Regions from separate parts of the Homo sapiens genome. Here region 2 is linked to region 1. Evidence: fine-mapped expression QTL. Tissue or cell type: sun-exposed skin. Region 1 holds a variant in brackets; the other region holds the start of a gene. All regions are shown on one strand. Distances are between the middles of the regions.

Region 1 (5,532 bases):
AAGAGTAATTCCTATGAAATCCATTAAAATGTTTAGATATGTTTTAAAAGCAAAATATTTACAATTGATTATTGGTACATAAGAATTCAGAAGTAACATGGTTTCATAAATACAAAATGTATCCAATTGATTCTCAACTATATAGTGACTTATTTTATGGTTGGCTGGTGAAATGCAGCTATTTGATGTAGCTTTTGGGGCTACGCTACACAGTTTAATGATGGTATGCAATTTATTTATATATTTTGTTCAATTGTATTTCCACTTTCTTTTTTATAATAAAACCTGTTCAAAATATGCAGATTGAAATCTCAGTGTATGCCATCCAGGTAAACATTTTAATTTTCTTTCCAGTCTCAAATTTTTATTTGGTCTATAATTGGTATGCCTTTAAAATTAAATCATAAATTTGAATATTAGAAAAAAATTTAAGGACACTAAAATGAAACAACCATATGTTGTAACTTGTAATATAACCATGTATCCACTAATCTCCACTTAGGTATAAGAGGTTGTTTGGTTTCCAGTAGATCTTTTTTACGTTAATAGCTGGATATCTGGGGTTCAGAATTCTTGTGTCCGTTTTCAATAAATACACAGAAATAAGAGTGCAAAATGCCAACACTGAATGCAGTGCAGCCGAGGATAGTCCATGAGGTACATCATGGTCTGTGCAGGATTGAAAGGAAGCTACAGCATAGGCCTTCACACCAGCGGAAGCTCTTCTCCACTGGGTTTGGGGATGGATACATAAGAGCACCTTCTAGCTACCTTTGACAGCTCTTGGACATCTCTTCAACCTCTTCTTAGTATGAATCACATTGGAGGGTCCAATTTCCAAAGAAAAAGGAAATAATAATTTTAAGTCTTTAGTGGACCAAAAATTATAACCTAGATTAACCAAATAGCAAGTGAATGTGACTCTAATGATATTTTCTGAGTTAAAAATCAGGAAAAATAGAAAATGTGCTCTAATCATCAATATAGTATATCCTCAAGAACTTGAAATAGAAACCCATTTTTTACTAAATTGATTTTTTCACCGAAGGGCTTACTCATCTACTGTGATCATTCCTGCTTGTCCTTACCTTTGCCTTTGAAATGGAACTTATGCAGTATTTTTCTGTGTGCATTTAATATGTAATACAAGATACATTTTAAAGCTTACATTTTTATGTTCTCCTTCTTGCCTTAATTACATGTAACATGAAGCTTATGTTTTAATGGGCACAGGCTCTCCAGTTTTACAGTATCATAAAAAGAGTTTATGAGCCTTTTGTTAAAAATCAGTGCCTATGTCATTGGCAGGGCATGGAATTATTTGCAACTACTTCTTCTACTTATAAGATAAAATTTGGTCTGAATTAAAAATATTATGAGAGAAAACTGAAACAATGCCTTTGCAGCCCAGAATGAGTTTAGTCATCAAATGGCACAAATTTGGGTCCATCAGTTTCCACTACATGTGCATACCCACAGGGGAAAACCTGATCTCTGTTCACACTTGCCTCTATAGAATACCCATTTCAATGTTCATATTAGTTATGCAAAATCACTGGCATGTTTTTAAAAGGGTGTGGATACACCCTTAGCTCAAGTTACTCCTGCCAAGAACAGGAATTATTTCAATAGGATGGAGTTTCCAGAGCCATGCTATTGGTAAACAGCCGGAAGTCTCTCTTGGCCACCTATCCTATAAATAAATTGATACCTTCTGTGAATTATTTATGGATTCTGAGATGAGGCTGATACAGACATTGCATCTCAGATTCTTATTTCCCAGAAGAATGGACAATCACAAAGTGGGTGATTGGCTTACATGGTGTTTTTCTCTTTCCTGGGGTCATCATAAGTCTTTGAAGTACTGAGCTTCTTGAAGTCGATTTCTCTTCCAATGGAAGCATCCCTGGGAGGGATGCTTGTCAAATACAGTGAAAATAAATGCCTTCCCTTCACCACTGATCATGGACTTGTTATGCTGCCTCTGCAGACAAGAAAGTCAAAACTGTTGGGTCAAAGCCAAACCTTCCCTGGTTTGTGTCTGGGCAGAGTGTGTGTCAAATAAAAGACTTGAAAACAGGAATTCTGGATTATTTTCAAATAAAAACTCATCCATACTGTATAAATACGTGTGTGTGTGTGTGTGTGTATGTATAGATAAAATGTATGCACACACACATACACACACAATGAAATAGATAATGGAGCAGTATCAAATAATCTTATATCCATCGAATTAGTTCCTTTAAAACATTCCTTTTATTTTTTATTTATAGCAGTATGTAAAACCTTTAGTATAACAGGTTCTATATCTCTGGATGCCTTTACCAAGTGCTC[G/A]TCTGAACATGTGGGGAATGCACTTCGAGGCCTCCGCCAGGCAGTGACAGAGCAGGGAGGGACGTGTTAGGGGAGATGTTTGCTAGATGCTTTTCTTAAGAGGTGACAAGTAACCCAACTGCCAGAAATCACCAAAATAAGAAGATACTAGGAAATGTTGGACTGTGGAGTCACGAGGGCTCCAAAACTAGAGAGAACGATAAACTATAGTTTAAACTTTAAAACTACAGAGAACTCGGGGAAAGAAAGAGAGCAGGGCAACATTGTACCCTGATGAAAGTAAATGGATCAGTAAAGTTCACTTATGGGAATCACTCTCAGTAGGGACTCTGGCCACATGCCGTGCCTCTGCCCTCAGATCTCACAGGGCCTTCTCACTGGCAAATGCTGAGATGGGTGGCTGAGAGGTAAGTCATATCCCTCAGTATGACTCAGTATGACCCTCAGTATGGCTGAGGGGTAAGTCATAACCCTTAGTTATGCGGCAGCATAACTAAGTCCTGTAAACTGTGGCAGAGGTTCCGCTGGGTGGAGGACACCCAGCACGATCACAGTTCTACAGCTCATAACTTTCTTCCTCCAAATCGAATTTCTAGTTGGCCTCCACCCATTTTCGTTTCCCCTTTTTGACTTAGATGGTTTCTGTGTCCACCTCCATTATTGCATTTTCACGGTATAATTACCTACAATCATCTATTTGATTACCTTGAGCCATTCATCTTTCTACTATCCAATCTCTAATGTAGAGTAGGGGCTCAGCAAACATTGCTCTCTCTCATTCTTTTCTCTGTTCACTACTTCTTAGCTCAGATGCCATCTCCTCTAGGAATCTTTCTCTGATTCCTCATACACTGATCAAAGTATTCTTTCTTTGCATTCCTTTAGCGTTCCCTGTTTACCCCAACCCAGCCATTTTCTCTTTGTCTGTTTAAGTTTGTCCTCCCTAGAATGTAAACTCCATGCGGAAGGGACTGAGTTGTTTGTTTGATTGTGGATATGCAAAATTTTTAACTGTTTTATTGAGATAAAATTTACCTACATGAAGTTCACTCATTTAAAGTGTAAAATTAAGTAGTTTTTGGTATATTTACAGTTCTGCAGTCATCAAGATAATCTAACTTTAGAACTTTTTTATCATCCCAAAAAGAAACATAGCAGTCACTCTTCAACTTTCCCCACCTCCACTCCTCAGACTTCAGTGACCACCAATCTGCTTTTTGTTTCTATGGATTTGCCTACCTTGGATGTTTCATATAAATAAGATCACACAATATGTGGTCTTTTTGGCTGCTTTCCTTCACTTAGCATTATTATGTTTTAATCTTTGCACTCTCAGTTTAGAAACAAATTACCTGGCACAGGAAAGACACTCATGAATTTTTATAAAAAAAAAAAAAACACACAAACAAATGCACTAACAAACTCTAGCATTTTCTGGAGTTAAAAATTGTGCTCGAAATAGAAGTTATCTAAAAGGCTTTGACAACGCACTATGTTAGAAATAGTATTAATATCATCATTTCCTGATACCCTGTTTAGCAAGTACCAAATGTTTGTTCCCATTGTTTATATGTATTATTTGTAACTGTTTTATTGAGATACAATTTACCTACCATGAAGTTTACTCATTTAAAGCATAAAATTCAGTGGTTTTTAGTATATTTACAGTTGGGATTGAGGTAGAGTACGAAAGAAGTAGTTGGGGAAGATGTCAGGTACATGTGGAAGTTGTCCTCCTGGACTCAATGGGGAGGCTGCTAGAAGTTCAGGGAGCTGCTGACACCCGGTGCTGGGCCCTGAGGCTTGCAGTTTGCACAGGGCTATGGTGCTTCAGGCCTGCTCTTTGCTGTACCCCTATACCTCGCTCATCTCAGAAGAAGCAGATGTTCTTTCCACCCTGCCCCTAGCAAAACTGGAAAGGATTTGATGAAGTTATGCCCATGTCTAAATGAACCATATCTCAAGCCCTCATAACTGAAGTTTTAAGAGAGGACAAAGTAAGACATTTCTAGTTGTGGAATTTCAGGTATCGGCTAGCCAGAAATGAGACTATTAAAAGAAGCAGGGAGTATCACATAACTTATCTGGAAGAGTCTGCTATTTTGACACCAAAAATTGAGGAGCCAGGAAAAAAGCTATACTGATTGCCCCATTTAGAGATGTGAGTTATTGGAGCCTAAAGTATATGGGAAGATATTCATGCAGGCCCTGCCCTTCCAGCATATAGACCAATGGGCATGGCTTCTGATCCATACAAATATTTCTACTTGCTTTCTTTTTCTACCATACTATCACCAAATGCAATATTAATGCAACATCAAAATTCATTTTTACATTATAAATCTTCCCTTAATTTTGTATATGATAAGCGCTTACAGATGCAAATCATGTTTAAATAGAAGACATAATGGTTAAAAGAAGTATGCCATATTGTAATAATTTTGCAAACAGCTGTTTCAAGTTAGCATGTGTGTATTCCCAGTCTTGTGTATATGAGATACAAGTTAATGTCAACAGTACATTAACAATGCAACTGAATTTAATTATGGAACTGGAAGTGCTATGGGTAGAGAGATCACATTTTCACTGAAAAGTAGAGGTAGGGTGATATCTGTTTCTAGTGAGTTTCAGATAGGTACTTTTTTCTTTTACACTCACCAATTCTATATTTTTTTTGCAACAGTGCAGTAGCTAAAAGATTTCTCTGCATGTTTTTTCCTAAGTCAAGACAGTAGATATATTCTTCAGCAATTTAATTTTGCAAGTAGCATTATATGTGATTTTGAAATATGAATCTGGGAAGTAAAAAGAGGACTGCAAGGCATAAGATTGATACTCATACTTTTGTACAAAGCTGTGTCTGGTATTCAGAACAAATGAAAAGCTTTCTTGCTTTGTTACCAGATGACTCCCTACTGTGTCCAAAATTCTTTATTTTACTGCATTCTACTGTTTGAAATCCTTTCAATTAGTGAAATCACTTAAATTAACCTCCAGGCTCTCTTAAGATGCTAATATCTTTGGGAGGGTTGGGGCTATTAGACATTTACGATATGAGTGAATTTAATCACATTGTTTTTCTACCAATAGCTGGCTAAATTCCATGCACTGAGTAAATAAGGGGAATGGGGTGTAATTTTGAAGGGAACCCTTTTAGGAAAAAGATTCCTGTGGAGGAAAGGGGAGCCTGAGAAG
Region 2 (5,000 bases), 27 kb after region 1:
TTAATTCACTCAATAAATTTTGTTCAAAAACAGGATCTTATGTACTAGGCCCAATGGCAGGGGTACAGCAATGAATCCGCCATTGTCCCTCTTGGAGAAGCTCACAGAATAAAGTGAGCTTGGATGAAGGCTCTGACTTTCAGAGAGGCCACTAGCCGTTAGCCAAAATATTTCTGGATCAGTATCTACATCCTATCATCAACTTGACTCCTCGACTCTTTAAAATGTGGCTTTAGAACCTGGTACATAGTGTACACTCAATAAACATTTGTTGGATAAGGGAGTGAATGGGATAGGATGAAAATTTCAGTGAGCTTTTATTGCTCACTGATTGATATAGGAGATAAGCAGCTAATGCTATCTAATCCTTTTTTTTTTTTTTTTTTTGAGTCGGAGTCTCACTGTGTGCCATAGGCTGGAGTGCAGTGGCGCTATCTCAACTCACTGCAACCTCCACCTCCTAGGTTCAAGCAATTCTCCTGTCTTAGCCTCCCGAGTAGCTGGGATTACAGGCATGCACCACCACACCCAAATAATTTTGTATTTTTAGCAGGGACAGGGTTTCACCATGTTGGCCATGCTGGTCTTGAACTCCTGACCTCTGGTGATCCGCCCATCTTGGCCTCCAAAAGTGCTGGGATTACAGGTGTGAGCCACTGCACCTGGCCCCAAATCCTTTATTTAAGTAATTTTGGCTTTGGGTACCCACTGAGCTGATACGTCCACCATGGGAATGTATTAACACTTCAAAAGATCTCTAAGGACAGATAATGCTTCTTAGAAACATTTCTTGTGTCTAATTAGGTGAGGCAGGCTTTCCCAATACCACAGCTAAACACGTTGCACTTGCCTTCAGATAACTCTCGGAGACCTTCCATCCTACAAAACACTGATTAACTAACCTTCCAAATCTGCCAGTAACTGGAACACTTCCTGCTTCTGAACTATCTTCGGCTCCAGGGAGTACCCTGCTAGATTCTTTAATCTCTCTTACTGATCATCTAAACGTATTTTCTTTTACACTTGTGTATGGTTTATTTGTACAGTTGTGGGAAGAGAGCTTGTCTTTATAAATTCCCACAGGACTAGGCACACAGCAGGTATTTAATAAGTACGTTTTTAAAAATGTGTCTTCCATGTGTAGCCCTGTCCTGCAGGGACGCATCGGGTAGGTGGCAAAGGGGTGCCCAATCCTAGCGAACTTTCAACTGAGGTTGGGGGAGAAGGGCAGGGACCCTCCCACCATGAGAATCGTAAGGTAGGACTGGAGAAAAAGATCAGAGCACATCTCTCATGTACTCTAGAACTCTCCAGAAACCTCTCACTTTCTTTGTCCCCATCTTCTGCAGGGGACTTACAGCGTTCTCAGGGACTGCAGGAAATAAGACAAATAGGGAAAAGGAAATCACAGAGCACGATTGAAATATGGCAGATGAGATGCTAGACTGGAATCTTCTCTTTCGCTCAAAATAAATGCATACATAAATGACAGTGATTGTAAGCCTGACAGCACTTCACCCACTCTCTAAAGTCTCCTGACAGTGGGACCTCAAGCAGGGGACTGGAAGGTTAATTTGTTCGGTACCAACTCTGACTCAAAAAGATTATTCTCCTGTGAGGTGAAGGAGAAGAAAAAAAGGTCAGTGACATTTTCCAGCCACTACACCCAGAGGGTAACCCAGATGTTGGTGGGATGGGTGGGACTCATCAAACCCACGCTTTCCCCCAAGGTTGCTAAGACAGAGCGTCCTGTTAGTCTTCGGGTTGAATCAACCCCACAACGACCCGTTCTAAGGAGACTGTGACAGCAGGAAAGGTCATGACACACCCAGGTCTGGACACGCTGTCCCTGAGGCCAGTGCCCGGAGCGCCCCCCGCGGAGCCGCTCTCCACCAATAAGAGCCTGAGGTCCCGAGATGATGAGATGCGGGGCCGCTGCTCAGCCAATCAGGCTCCAGGCGCGGCCAGGGGGAGGAGATGGGAGGAGAGGCCGGGGGCGATGGAGACGCGGATACATCAACAGAAGTTTCTCACCTAGGAATGCGAGGGGCGCTCCCGCATCTCCTGCACATCTCCACCCCTGCGCAGGAGGAGATCCCCAGGCTGCTCTCTCCATCTCTCCTACAGCTCCCTGCAAACGAGGGGGAAGCTGCTGAGAGTCCCTATCACTGCTGGCCTTTTAATGTTGTATGCAAGGAGGAAGAGGGCGAGGGATAACTTGGTGCTGGACAACTGACCTGCGGCCCGAAGGGCCTCTGGGGAGGGGGTGCAAAAGAGGAGCGGCTGGGCTGGGGGACTCCATGCGGGGGCGATGGACAGGGCGGCGCTCCTGGGACTGGCCCGCTTGTGCGCGCTGTGGGCAGCCCTGCTCGTGCTGTTCCCCTACGGAGCCCAAGGAAACTGGATGTGAGTATGGAGGTGGCAGGGAAGCATCGGGTAGGTGGCAAAAGGGGTGCCCAATCCTAGGGAACTTTCAACTGAGGCTGGGGGAGAAGGGCGGGGACCCTTAGACGAGTGACCTAATTTTTCGGAAAACATCTGGAATTGGGGAGCGGCTTAACGCTACGGGCGGCCGTGTCTTACAGGTGGTTGGGCATTGCCTCCTTCGGGGTTCCAGAGAAGCTGGGCTGCGCCAATTTGCCGCTGAACAGCCGCCAGAAGGAGCTGTGCAAGAGGAAACCGTACCTGCTGCCGAGCATCCGAGAGGGCGCCCGGCTGGGCATTCAGGAGTGCGGGAGCCAGTTCAGACACGAGAGATGGAACTGCATGATCACCGCCGCCGCCACTACCGCCCCGATGGGCGCCAGCCCCCTCTTTGGCTACGAGCTGAGCAGCGGTGAGTCCTGGGTCCTTAGGGGTTGGTGGGGGACGGAAGGCGACAACTCCTCCACCGGTTCCTGCAAATAAAGTAAATAGTGCTACGTGGTCCTGTAGCTCTCTAAGTTCCAGAAGAAGCCCTTTAGTGCACGGGGATTGAGAGCTACAAAGGCCAGACCTGGGGAGCAGGTGCGAGCCTGGAGGGAGGTGACTCCCCAGTTCCAGAGCGGAGCTCTAGGGGCTGGAGCTCTTCCTCTTTCCTGCGGTGCCCCGCCAGAGTTGGAAAAAAAACTCTAATTCTCCTACCCCGCCGACCCCCTCGGACCCCGTAGCGCCCCCCTACGTGGGTGACCAGCTGGAGAAACATGATGTCGGCAGCGGGGAATGCGGCTGCCGCATCTGCTTTGATTTAACCAACTCCGCTGCGCACCAAACCCCGGACAAGTGGCTAATTGCAGCGAAGCCCCACCTTTATTGGCTCCTAGGAGCACCGAGTTGACAGAATAATGGTGACTTTTAAAGCGACTGTCCGCGACCACCCAACGTGCGGCTAACCTGAGCAGGACCACTTGTGCGCTTCTCGTTTCTTTGGCTTTTCTATCTTTCCCTCCTCGGCGCACTCCCGCGGCGCGGGAAGCTGCAGGAAAACAAAGTTCCACTTCCACGTGCGTAGTGACTTGGTAAGGATAAAGGTACAGGGAGCCAGGATTGTTCCTGGAATATCAACAGATCCAAAGAATGTTAGGACTGGGGCGCTGAAGGATGCGCTGTCGTTTTTCATGTTCATTTCCGTTCCCCCTCCGCCTTTGACCCTTGTCCACGCAGTCCCTGCGCGCACCCCCGCCGAGCCGCGCACCTCCCCCGCGGCGTTCTGGCCGGCACGCCCTTCCGAAGGAGCCCTGGTCCCCGTAGAGAGAAAAAAAAAAAAAAAAAAAAAAGAGACAGAAAGAAAAAAAATAGATGTGTTTTTCACAGTTGCTGAAATGCATCAGCTGTTGAAAAGGTTTATTGGACAGCGGGCATGAAACTGTTTCTACTCCAAACTAAACATCTGGAAAGAAAAAAAAAAAGTCGCCTGCTGATTCCCTTCTAGTCCATGTTATTAATGTTTTAATGGACTTTAATTTTCAAAGATTTTAGCTCAAACTCTACTGCAGGTGTGCTAAATGCATAATTTTCAATATTCAATATTTTTAATAGAATTATGTTTTTGCTAGTGACATTTTAATTATCTTACCTTTCATTGCCTTTAAGACTGTAAGAGGAGTAGCTAATACTATATAAAATGTTTAACTGTTTCATGTTAATGTGAGACTAATCTTTAATGTGAAAATATACGGTACCGTTTACTAATTGCTTTGGTCTTTCCTTAATTTTAATTTTCATTCTGACACGTATTATTTATGCAAACAAAAATCACACCAAAATGTTCAGCTTGTGTTCTGTGAGAGCACATTTTAAATTTCAAAAGAAAAGCAATCTAGTGTTCTTTGGGTGTTGTATTACCGTTTACAGTATCTATGCAAAGAATTTTTAATTCAGCATGTATTACTGAGCTATGACTGTCAACTGTGCACTGAACTGGGTGCAAACATACATTTCAAATTTAAAAAATAAAGAGATGATTTTAAGGTAAAGGGACAATGTATGACCATACAGTATATGACAATCTCTTCAAGTGGAATACTGAAAATTAATGTTGCTTTTTAAGAGACTAGAACAAGAGCAAATCTTCCTTTCTAAATATGTACTCGTTAACGCATCCATTGTAAGCAACTGAAAAATTACTTGTCCAGTAAGATCATGAGTAGGAGGCTTTCTTCTGAACATAAACAGAAGTTGCCTGGTTCTCTAATTTAGCAATTTATATTTTTTCTAGGCACCAAAGAGACAGCATTTATTTATGCTGTGATGGCTGCAGGCCTGGTGCATTCTGTGACCAGGTCATGCAGTGCAGGCAACATGACAGAGTGTTCCTGTGACACCACCTTGCAGAACGGCGGCTCAGCAAGTGAAGGCTGGCACTGGGGGGGCTGCTCCGATGATGTCCAGTATGGCATGTGGTTCAGCAGAAAGTTCCTAGATTTCCCCATCGGAAACACCACGGGCAAAGAAAACAAAGTACTATTAGCAATGAACCTACATAACAATGAAGCTGGAAGGCAGGTATGTATTAGAAAATG

Which allele goes with the higher level. Alleles are on the strand shown, and positions count from the first base shown. SD is a standard deviation of normalised expression in the study named.
For the expression in sun-exposed skin of the gene that starts at base 2,019 in region 2, A is the low allele of the variant in region 1 and G is the other (moderate effect, 0.54 SD a copy in GTEx).

What was found. PIP is the estimated chance that this variant, and not a neighbour inherited with it, causes the effect.
Region 2: it holds the start of WNT16, and the variant in region 1 is fine-mapped to the expression of WNT16 in sun-exposed skin (GTEx, PIP above 0.99). The same link has a PIP of 0.9 or more in unexposed skin.

Annotation. Positions count from the first base shown.
Region 1 is chr7:121,299,652-121,305,183 of GRCh38, forward strand. No RefSeq gene overlaps it. Among named protein-coding and RNA genes, the nearest start is that of WNT16, 27 kb to the right of the region's middle. RefSeq lists an enhancer at 2,682-2,751. The variant G/A (reference allele first, on the strand shown) is at 2,338.
Region 2 is chr7:121,326,982-121,331,981 of GRCh38, forward strand. WNT16 (Wnt family member 16) reads left to right here and starts at 2,019. Exons shown (of 4, transcript NM_057168.2): 1 at 2,019-2,406; 2 at 2,586-2,836; 3 at 4,697-4,983. The coding sequence starts at 2,312.